Homo sapiens: one gene and its partners. The protein of the gene in region 3 interacts with the protein of the main gene of each other region in a pairwise test. Each region holds a gene or a part of one and is shown on either strand. Other genes may lie near its edges.

Region 1 (3,754 bases), on a different chromosome or scaffold from region 3:
TGTGCCATGAGATGATAAATGTACACACAACACACTTTCACTTGCATTTGAAGCTCAATTGGCCACCGCTTTTCAGTCCCCTTTGCTAGTATTTTCTGCTCTAAATTTGACTCTAAATTTAGGAGTGTCCCGCAGCTTTTACTTGTTCCCCACCTCTCTTATCTCTATATAGTCTTTCTATAGGTGATATTATCCAGTCTCAGGGCTTAAAATATCATGCTCTCTTTTCATCTAAACTATCAGCCTTGGCCTCTCTCTGGTGCTCCAGTCTGATATAACCTCTCCCCACGGGAGTCCCGTAGACATTTCAAACCTAACGTGGCTCAACCAAACAGTTGATTGTCTCATCCTCCCAAACCTGCCACTCTTCCAATATTTTGTGTCTATTTGAGTTTAAACATTCAGTTGTTAAAACTTCCAAACTAGAACTTATCTTTCATTTCACTTTCTCTCACCACAATCCCATCCAAGTCCTATTAATTCTATCTACAGAATCTGCTGAATGCACAGCCAGAGCCATCTCTATCTCTACAACCTGTGTCCATGGTCCTGTCAGGCAGGAATGTTTGCGCCAACTTTGCAAATAGGTTGTTCCTGGTCCTACTTTCCCCTGCCCTACAATCCAATCTCCAGAAGGAAACCAAATGAGCTTTTAAAAAGTTCAATAAGGGCCAGGTGCAGTGGCTCACACCTGTAATCCCAGCACTTTGGGAGGCCGAGGCAGGTGGGTCACCAGAGGTCAGGAGTTCGAGACCAACCTGGCCAACATGAAGAAACCCCATCTCTACTAAAAATACAAAATTAGCTGGGCGTGGTGGCACGTGCCTGTAATTCCAGATGCTCGGGAGGCTGACGCAGGAGAATCGCTTGAACCAGGGAGGCGGAGGTTGCAGTGAGCTGAGATCGTGCCATTGCACTCCAGCCTGGGCAACAAGAGCAAAACTCTGTCTCAAAAAAAAAAAAAAAGTCCAATAAGGGCCGGGAGTGGCTCATGCCTGTAATCCCAGCACTTTGGGAGGCTGAGGTGGGTGGATCACCTGAGGTCAGGAGTTCAAGACCAACCTGCCCAACATGATGAAACCCCGTCTCTACTAAAAAAACACAAAAATTAGCTGGGCGTGATGGCGGGTGCCTGTAATCCCAGCTACTTGGGAGGCTGAGGCAGGAGAATCGCTTGACCCTGAGAGGCAGAGTTTGCAGTGAGCCGAGACTGCGCCACTGCACTTCAGCCTGGGCGACAGAGCAAGATTCTGTCTCAAAAAAAAAAAAAAAAAAGGTCCAATAAAATGGTGATGCTATTTTCAACACCTTCTAATGGCTTCCAAACTTCTAACTTATCCTTATCTTAAGTTCCCTCAAGTACCCCTGGACCTGCCCTGTGCATTCCTCAGACCTCATCTCTGCACTCTCGTGGGACACACTGGGCTCCACCCATAACGGGCTCTGATTCCTTGAACATGCAGCTCATTGTCATCTCGGGGCTTCTGCCTTCTCTGTTCCTTCTGCCTACCATGCTCTTCCTCTTAAGCTCCTCACACTTGGCTCCTTCACATGTTTATTTATCTTTGAGTTAGAGTTTCACTCTTCTTGCCCAGGCTGGAGTGCAATGGCACGATATCGGCTCACTGCAACCTCGGCCTCCTAGGTTCAAGCGATTCTCCTGCCTCAGCCTCCTGAGTAGCTGGGATTACAGGCTCCCACCACTACGCCTGGCTAGTTTGTTGTTTGCATTTTTAGTAGAGACAGGGTAATGCAAGCCCTAAATGCCAGCCACACACGTGACTTACAACTTTCTAGTAGCCATGTTAAAAAAGTAAAATCATTGGGAGAAATTAATTATAATAATATGTTTCATTTAACCCCGCAAATAAAAAAAATCATTGGAACACGTTACCAAAATGAAAGTTATTAACGAGATAAATTGTATTATTTTGATCATACTAATGATTAAACTACACTAAGTATATTTTACACTTAAGCACATTTCAGATCAAGATAGAAACATAGGCACTCAAAAGCCACCTGTGGCAAGTGGATGCTCCATTACAGCACTGCTCTAGAATTTAGGAGGTGTTTGTCAGAGAGCAGGAGTTCCATTGATAAATTTTAAATTGTCAGTCCCCAACTTACCAGCAGCTAAGCTCCTTTTCCTGTGTGCTTCTTGGCTTCCTGTGGAGCAACACCGGCTCTAAGGGCTTTCGCGGAGACTACTGAATGATGGGGGAGGGACAATGGAGCTGGAGCCAATCCCCTAACAGAAACTCAGGATTTCTTATAATTTTCAGAAGACACCTTGGGTATGTTGTCAGCGGACTCTTCTTAGAAACCAATGTGTCTGAATGTTCCTTCACCTCTAGCCTTCTGTGAGAGACTGGAGTTCATGCTTCCAAATGTCAAGGGTCAAGGAATCTGAATGTCCAGCCCTTCCTTCTTCAGAGTTTCATGAAAATGAAAGAAACAATTACTGAAGTGGGAAGAGTTTCAGCCACGCAATCAAGCCCAAATATGATGATTAAGTCAAACTCAATTCTCGACTTATGCAGTACTTCTGGCATCAAATGTGTGGGTCTTTTCCATATCAAGCAATTCTCCAGTTCTCTGGGGACACCACTGGGTATCTCACAATTCAATTCAGCTCCGACGCTGTCTACCTGGAGTTAGTGTCAGATCCCACAAGTTAAAGGGCTCACTCTCCCAAAACTGTCCTCACTTCAGACACCAATCCAAGTCCCAGGTGGCCACCTGTACTTCTGACTGACTGGCTATAAATCGGGGGTGGGGGGATGTTTATAACCCCTTCCTCTGTTCTGATAATTTGTTAGAATGGCTCACAGAACTTAAGAAGGCACATTACTGGCTGGGCGCTGTGGCTCACACCTGTAATCCTAGCACTTTGGGAGGCCGAGGTGGGTGGATCACTTGAGGTCAGGAGTTGAAAACCATCCTAGCCAACATCATGAAACCCCACCTCTACTAAAAATACAAAAAAAATTAGCTGGGCGTGGTGGTGGGCACCTGTAATCCCAACTACTTGGTAGGCTGAGGCGGCAGAATCGCTTGAACCTGGGAGGCGGAGGTTACAGTGAGCCGAGATTGTGCCACTAAACTCCAGCCTGGGCAACAGAGCGAGACTCCATCTAAAAAAAAAAAGAAAAGAAAAGAAAAGAAGAAGGCACATTACCTACATTTACTCGTTTGTTCTCAATGGAGTTCACATATCGAGAAATAAAAGGTGGTAGGTATTGTATAGGTGCAGGTCTCTAAAGAGGTGCTTCCTTGCTGGCTGCTGGAGACATAGAGATCAATCAGACATGGGCTCTGCGGACCACCTGAATAGAGAGGTGAGAATGCAGTGCTTAGTTACAATAGGGTGGGGGCACGTAGTGATAGACAGATGCCTGGCTCCTTGTGAGGTCCTCTAAAAGGAACCACTAACTCAGATTCACGGATCTAGAGTCAATATCCGGAGGAGGGAACATGTAGGCTGAGTCTTAAAGACTCAGATAAAGGAGAAAAAATAATGCATTCTTGTCAGAGGGGAGTAAAAATACCCACGAAAGGGGTCACAAAAAAGCAGGTTACTTTTGTTTACCAGAGCATAGATGATAAGGCAGACAGCAATAAGCATTAAGTATGTAGAGGGCGGCAGAGGCAATTTCTTGGTTGGTCTTGAATGCTGTAAAAAGAACTTAGAATTTCTTCTTAAAATTTCTTTCTTATATATATATATATTTTTATTATTATACTTTAAGTT
Region 2 (3,491 bases), on a different chromosome or scaffold from region 3:
GGAGCCTGGCCCCCAAAGGCACTCCATCCCAGGACCAGGGACAAGCCAAAGGGCTGACCTCAAGCACTAAGCGCTCCACAGGGGAATAATTGAAAATGGAGTAAGAGTTCTTGGTCTTGGAGGGTGAAGGGTGGGAGGAGGGAGAAGATCAGGAAAAATAACTAATGGATATTAGGCTTAATACCTGGGTGATGAAATAATCTGTACAACAAATCCCCATGACACAAGTTTACGTGTGTAACAAACTTGCATATATAGGCCAGGGGCGGTGGCTGATGCCTGTAATCCTAGCACTTTGGGAGGCCGAGGCGGGCAGATCACCTGAGGTCGGGAGTTCAAGACCAGCCTGACCAACATGGGGAAACCCCGTCTCTACTAAAAGTACAAAATTACCCGGGCGTGGTGGCGCATGTCTGTAATCCCAGCTACTTGGGATGCTGAGGCAGGAGAATCCTTGAACCCGGGAGGTGGAGGTTGCAGTGAGCCGAGATCATGCCATTACGCTCCAGCCTGAGCAACAAGAGCAAAACTCCGTCTCAGGAAAACAAACAAAAAAACCTGCACATATACTTCTGAATTTAAAACAAAAGTTAAAAAACAAAGATTTCTTGGTCTCTGGTCACTACCTCCCTCATCAGCTTTGCGCCTCCACTGTCACCCTCAGGAATGTTCCACATACTCAGCGAGTATGCTTGGGGGGCAAAAGGGTGAAAGATACAAAAGCTTCTGATATCTATTTAACTGATTTCACCCAAATGCTTTGAACCTGGGAATGTACCTCTCCCCCTCCCCCACCCCCAACAGGAGTGAGACAAGGGCCAGGGCTATTGCCCCTGCTGACTCAATATTGGCTAATCACTGCCTAGAACTGATAAGGTGATCAAATGACCAGGTGCCTTCAACCTTTACCCTGGTAGAAGCCTCTTATTCACCTCTTTTCCTGCCAGAGCCCTCCATTGGGAGGGGACGGGCGGAAGCTGTTTTCTGAATTTGTTTTACTGGGGGTAGGGTATGTTCAGTGATCAGCATCCAGGTCATTCTGGGCTCTCCTGTTTTCTCCCCGTCTCATTACACATTAACTCAAAAACGGACAAGATCATTTACACTTGCCCTCTTACCCGACCCTCATTCCCCTAACCCCCATAGCCCTCAACCCTGTCCCTGATTTCAATTCCTTTCTCCTTTCTTCTGCTCCCCAATATCTCTCTGCCAAGTTGCAGTAAAGTGGGATAAGGTTGAGAGATGAGATCTACCCATAATGGAATAAAGACACCATGAGCTTTCCATGGTATGATGGGTTGATGGTATTCCATGGGTTGATATGTCAGAGCTTTCCAGAGAAATAACTTGGAATCCTGCTTCCTGTTGCACTCAAGTCCAAGGACCTCAGATCTCAAAAGAATGAACCTCAAATATACCTGAAGTGTACCCCCTTAGCCTCCACTAAGAGCTGTACCCCCTGCCTCTCACCCCATCACCATGAGTCTTCCATGTGCTTGTCCTCTCCTCCCCCATTTCTCCAACTTGTTTATCCTCACATAATCCCTGCCCCACTGGGCCCATCCATAGTCCCTGTCACCTGACAGGGGGTGGGTAAACAGACAGGTATATAGCCCCTTCCTCTCCAGCCAGGGCAGGCACAGACACCAAGGACAGAGACGCTGGCTAGGTAAGATAAGGAGGCAAGATGTGTGAGCAGCATCCAAAGAGGCCTGGGCTTCAGTTGTGGAGAGGGAGAGAGCCAGGTTGGAATGGGCAGCAGGTAGGGAGATCCCTGGGGAGGAGCTGAAGCCCATTTGGCTTCAGTGTCCCCCAAACCCCCACCACCCTCTTCCTAGGCCGCCCTCCCCACTGTTACCAACATGAAGCTGCTCGCAGCAACTGTGCTACTCCTCACCATCTGCAGCCTTGAAGGTGGGTGTGATATGGAGAGGGGGCCAAAAGGGAGAATGTGCTGGTGGTTATAGCTACCTATCTGCCTGTGCTCTTATATCCAGGTCTGGCAACCAAAGGGCTCAAAAGGAAGATCATTCCCTCTCTAAAGCCCAGAAAGCCCATCCAAAGATCTGGCTGGATACCTTTTTGGGGAGGGGGCAGAGAGCTGGGGTGGGTACTGGCAGAGGTATGGCAGGAGGCCAGGATTCACTGCTGTGGACCCAGCTGAAAAGAGTGTGTGTGTGTGTGTGTGTGTGTGTGTGTGTGTGTGTGGGCAGGAGCTTTGGTTCGGAGACAGGCAAAGGAGCCATGTGTGGAGAGCCTGGTTTCTCAGTACTTCCAGACCGTGACTGACTATGGCAAGGACCTGATGGAGAAGGTCAAGAGCCCAGAGCTTCAGGCCGAGGCCAAGTAAGTCTCAGGGCAAGGGGTTCAGGGGCTGTGGAACTGTGGAGAGAAAGAAGGGAAGATGAGAGGTCCCACAGAAGTCTGAACCCAGGGGTGGGGATTAGGGCAGATTAGGCTTAAATTGCAGAGAAAAAGTATTTCATCACCCAAAGATCCCACACGTCTCTTAGATAGAGAGGAACAGCAAGAACTGGGCCTTGAATTTCAGTCTCTAGAGTCTGTCCCTCTACCTAGCAAAGGTCTTGACTCTATTCCTACCTAGGGGCTTTGCCATGCGATGGACCAGGCACTAGAGTTTGGGGACCTGAGTCAGTCTGCTCTGACCTCCCACCACCACCAAGGCCCCTGCCAGTGCCTAGGGTCCCTCAGATTAAACTCTAATCCCCTCACCTATCCAGGTCTTACTTTGAAAAGTCAAAGGAGCAGCTGACACCCCTGATCAAGAAGGCTGGAACGGAACTGGTTAACTTCTTGAGCTATTTCGTGGAACTTGGAACACAGCCTGCCACCCAGTGAAGTGTCCAGACCATTGTCTTCCAACCCCAGCTGGCCTCTAGAACACCCACTGGCCAGTCCTAGAGCTCCTGTCCCTACCCACTCTTTGCTACAATAAATGCTGAATGAATCCAGCTCTGAGCCTGGTATGTTTGGGGGACTGGGAAAAGTAGGGGAGTAAGGGAGGAGAAGAGGAAGGAAAAGGAAAAATCTGCTTCTAGAAGGAGAGAGGTTTGAGTGTGGAGGGGTGAAGAAAGGATTGAAGACACAACTGATGAAAATGACAGGATGAGGGTGCCATGATTCTCCAAACCCAGAGTCTCCTACAGCCTGGGCACGACTCTGCAGGTGAACACTAAAGAGGCTTTGCATTGCACAAGGAACTAGGAGAGGAAGGAAGGATTCACAAACTGAATCCCTCGATTTCTGGAGGTCATAGAAAATGAGGGTACCCTGGTGGGGTGCAGTGGCTCACACCTGTAATCCCTGCACTTTGGGAGGCCAAGGTAGGTGGATCACTTGAGATCAGGAGTTCCAGACCAGCCTAGCCAACATGGTAAAACCCCGTCTCTACTAAAAATACAAAAATTAGCCAGGTGTTGTGGCACGTGCCTGTAATCCCAGCTACTCGGGAGACTGAGGCATGAGAATCT
Region 3 (3,397 bases):
TTTTGATGTGTAAGTCCTTGGCCTGCCTTTAGCATGAATCCTGTTAGGTCACTTTATCAGGAATACTCCTATGTTTGATGTCTCTCTTTGGTAATTTCCCATCCTGTGATGTCCTCCTCCTGCTCCTGGCTATAAATCCCCACTTGTCCTTGTTGTATTCAGAGTGGAGCTCAATTTCTACTCTCTATTGCAATAGAGTCTTGAATGAAGTCCTCCTGGCCATTTTAACAAGTGTCAGAATAATTTTTCCTTTAACATTTGCCATGCACTTTGTGGATGACAACCGTGGGTAGCCCACTGCCAACTGCCTTCTGGGTCATGCTGCCTCTCCTCCCTACTCCAGGAATCAGATCTTATTCCAGCCTCTTGAGCTCCTCTTCCACACCAGCCCCTAGCTGACATGTGTGGCAATACAGTTCTTGTAGGGTCAAACCTAGAGAGGATGGGGCAATTCTATTCCAACCAACTTCACCTAGTTCATTCAGTCAGTCAGATAAGCAAAACATCTGAATACATTTAAGTGGTTTCTCAACATAAATAATACATTTTCAAAGAGCTTTCTTATTCATATTACAGACATAAACAAAATACATACACTCAAGGCACAAAATATATACACTCAAGGCACAAAATATCTGTCTTGTGCTATTTCAAATAAAAAAATCATAGCAGATATAGATCTTTGGTGTTCCAATGGTGCCATAAACACGTGATGGCCTTTTTTTTTTTGAACGAAGAATTGTGTGAGATTTTACCTCTTGGGTTCCAAGTATGTTTTTGTTTGTTGGTAGAGAGACTTTGTTGTAAAAGTCTCCTCACCTATAGCTCTGGTGATTTTTCATGTTTTATTCATCTCTTTCATTTGGCTTCAAGTGAAGGAAGAACGTGATAAAATTCAAAATTTACTAAATTTCTTGTTAATGTCAGATATGGAACTTTCCTCTTGACTGTCTCTTTTCATTGGCGGTGTTACTGAAGGCTTCTGTCGGGAATGGTGCGCCAACCATTCGTTGGTTCTCAAGGCTTTGCAGTGGAGGCAGTGCCTTTCGCTCATTTGGTAACTTCCCAGATTCCTTTGCCTCTGAGCCATTTTTCTCCTCTTAATACTGTCTGGTGATGGGTGGTGTTCACTTTCACTCTCCTTCCACGAGGAGGCTTCTGAGTTAGACTCTTCACTGCCATACTCCGTAGTATCACTGTCATGTTGGTTCTGGTTCACCTCATTGAACTGAGACTGGCGCCTGGCTCGTCTTTGTTCAGGATAGGCATTGACCAAAGCCACTTCTGAGTTGGTTACAGGGGTAAGTTGGTTCTGCTTTGGTTTCTTCATTGTTTGTGAGGGATCCCAGGCACTGTCTTTGCTTTGCCGCTTACAGGAAGTCTCTTTGCTTGCTAACAACCAATGAAACATATCAAGTTAGTAATATTGTTGGTTACTATGAATTCCTATTACTTAAGAAGCCTGTGCACGTGTGAGCTCACTCTTAGTGGCCAGTTGTCAAGCCATTGCTTTTCTCCAGTCACCTGCAAGTGTTGGCAGCTGACTGCATTTTCTAGTACCATATCCCAACTCCTGCAGACCAGAGAGCTTAGATAGATGCTTGACATATCACCATATCACTTTTGAAGTTTTGTGGATGCTAAACATAAGGTCAAAGGAAAAGATCTCTAAACTTTTCCAGGGAAGAACTCTTTTTTCCCTTTGAAAATTGAAGTCTTACAGATTCAAGCAGGTATATGAATGTGATTTGGGGAGCAGGAACTAAGAAGGATCTTTCCTTTACGTAGTGGTGTGAGGAAGTTGGCTTGTACCTGCTCAGAAGAGCTGATAAACTTTCAGGAATTTTGAGAGATGGTTAAACATAGCCATTATTAAAAATTAAATTATACCAACTTACAATAAATTAAGTTACTAAAAATAGAGGTAATACTCAAAACCCATCACTTCCTAATTATCTTACTACATTTGTTTATGCTATGTGCTCTTCTGGTTTTTTATGTCCGTTGTATTTGGATGCTGGAAACTCTATGCTGTTTTTTTGTTTTGTTTTTTTTTGTTTTTGAGATGGAGTCTCGCTCTGTTGCCCAGGCTAGAGTGCAGTGGCACGATCTCGGCTCACTGCAATGTCTGTCTCCCAGGTTCAAGTGATCCTCCTGCCTCAGCCCCCCAGCAGCTGGGATTATAGGCACGTGCCACCATGCACAGCTAATTTTTTTGTATTTTTAGTAGAGACAGGGTTTTGCCATGTTGGCCAGGCTGGTCTCGAACTCCTGACCTCAGGAGATCCACCCTCCTTGGCCACCCAAAGTGCTGAGATTACAGGCGTGAGCCACCACGCCCGGCGGAAATTCTATGTTAAGGGTGCACTACTGCACATCTCCTCCCAACTCCATGTTCAATGACATGAGGTGGATAGCTTAAAATCAGCTTTGGTGGAAGTATTTATACCACGAAAATCAGCAGACACTAAACATCAGGGCTTGATGTATGGCTTTGTTGATTGTCTAGGCTTAAGAAAATGATGGAGAACATGTTACTAATGCAGATTACATATTACATTTCAGTATCATCCCTGTAGCCACTACATTGTGACTAACCCTGCAAAATGAGGAAATATTCTTCCAGTATTTTAGAACTATTATCCATTCCAGCAAAGAAGTCACTCACATCACTGACAACCAAGTTAAGTTCCAACATACATCTATCTTCTGCTTCATTTTCATCTCACTCCTTAACTTAGAGGAAAATAACATTCACGCTGGAACTATACTTGTTCATCAATTGCAGCCATGGTTGGCTAAGGTGCAAGGGTCTGGCAAAAATGAAGGAGAGCGTTTTGTGAGAATCAGTTGTCTATATGAAATTGGCCATAAGGAGTATTGTATATTTTATTATTTTAAATGGTGTGATATATATTTATTTATTTTTATTTATTTATTTATTAAATTTTTAGAGTCAGGGACTCACTGTGCCGCCCAGGCTGGAGTGTAGTGGCATGATTATGCCTCACTGGCAGCCTCGAACTCCTGGGCTCAAGTGATTCTGTTGCCTCAGCCTCCTGAGTAGCTGAGACCGCAGGTGCGAACAACCATGCCAGCTAATTTTCTTTTTTAAAAAGACAGGGTTTTGCTATGTTCTCCAGGCTGATCTTGAACTCCTGGCCTCAAGCAGTTCTCCTGCTTCAGCCTCTGGAGGTGCTGAGATGACGTGCAACCTTTATATCAGTAAAATTTTTAGTAAGCATATGTACACACAGGAGTTTTGGAGAACCAGTTGTTAAACATTTACCAGTGCACCACTGCTTATAGGTTATTGAAAAAGATGTCATAGACAGTTCATAATCCTGTAATAGCACTAACCATGAGGATGTGGGAAGGGCAAGCAATGTGAAGGGAG

What was found.
Region 1: the proteins of SSMEM1 (region 3) and FPR2 interact in binary tests that used the Homo sapiens proteins (3 or more experiments, as listed by UniProt).
Region 2: the proteins of SSMEM1 (region 3) and APOA2 interact in binary tests that used the Homo sapiens proteins (3 or more experiments, as listed by UniProt).

Annotation. Positions count from the first base shown.
Region 1 is NC_000019.10:51,759,607-51,763,360, reverse strand, and holds the start of FPR2 (N-formyl peptide receptor 2), read right to left. Parts: upstream 2,182-3,754; 5' UTR 2,131-2,181; intron 1-2,130. UniProt on the Homo sapiens protein: Low affinity receptor for N-formyl-methionyl peptides, which are powerful neutrophil chemotactic factors. Binding of FMLP to the receptor causes activation of neutrophils.
Region 2 is NC_000001.11:161,221,773-161,225,263, reverse strand, and holds APOA2 (apolipoprotein A-II preproprotein), read left to right. Parts: upstream 1-1,635; 5' UTR 1,636-1,669; intron 1,670-1,838; 5' UTR 1,839-1,862; coding exon 1,863-1,914; intron 1,915-2,213; coding exon 2,214-2,346; intron 2,347-2,741; coding exon 2,742-2,859; 3' UTR 2,860-2,972; downstream 2,973-3,491. UniProt on the Homo sapiens protein: May stabilize HDL (high density lipoprotein) structure by its association with lipids, and affect the HDL metabolism.
Region 3 is NC_000007.14:130,213,969-130,217,365, reverse strand, and holds the end of SSMEM1 (serine-rich single-pass membrane protein 1), read right to left. Parts: intron 1,393-3,397; coding exon 896-1,392; 3' UTR 522-895; downstream 1-521.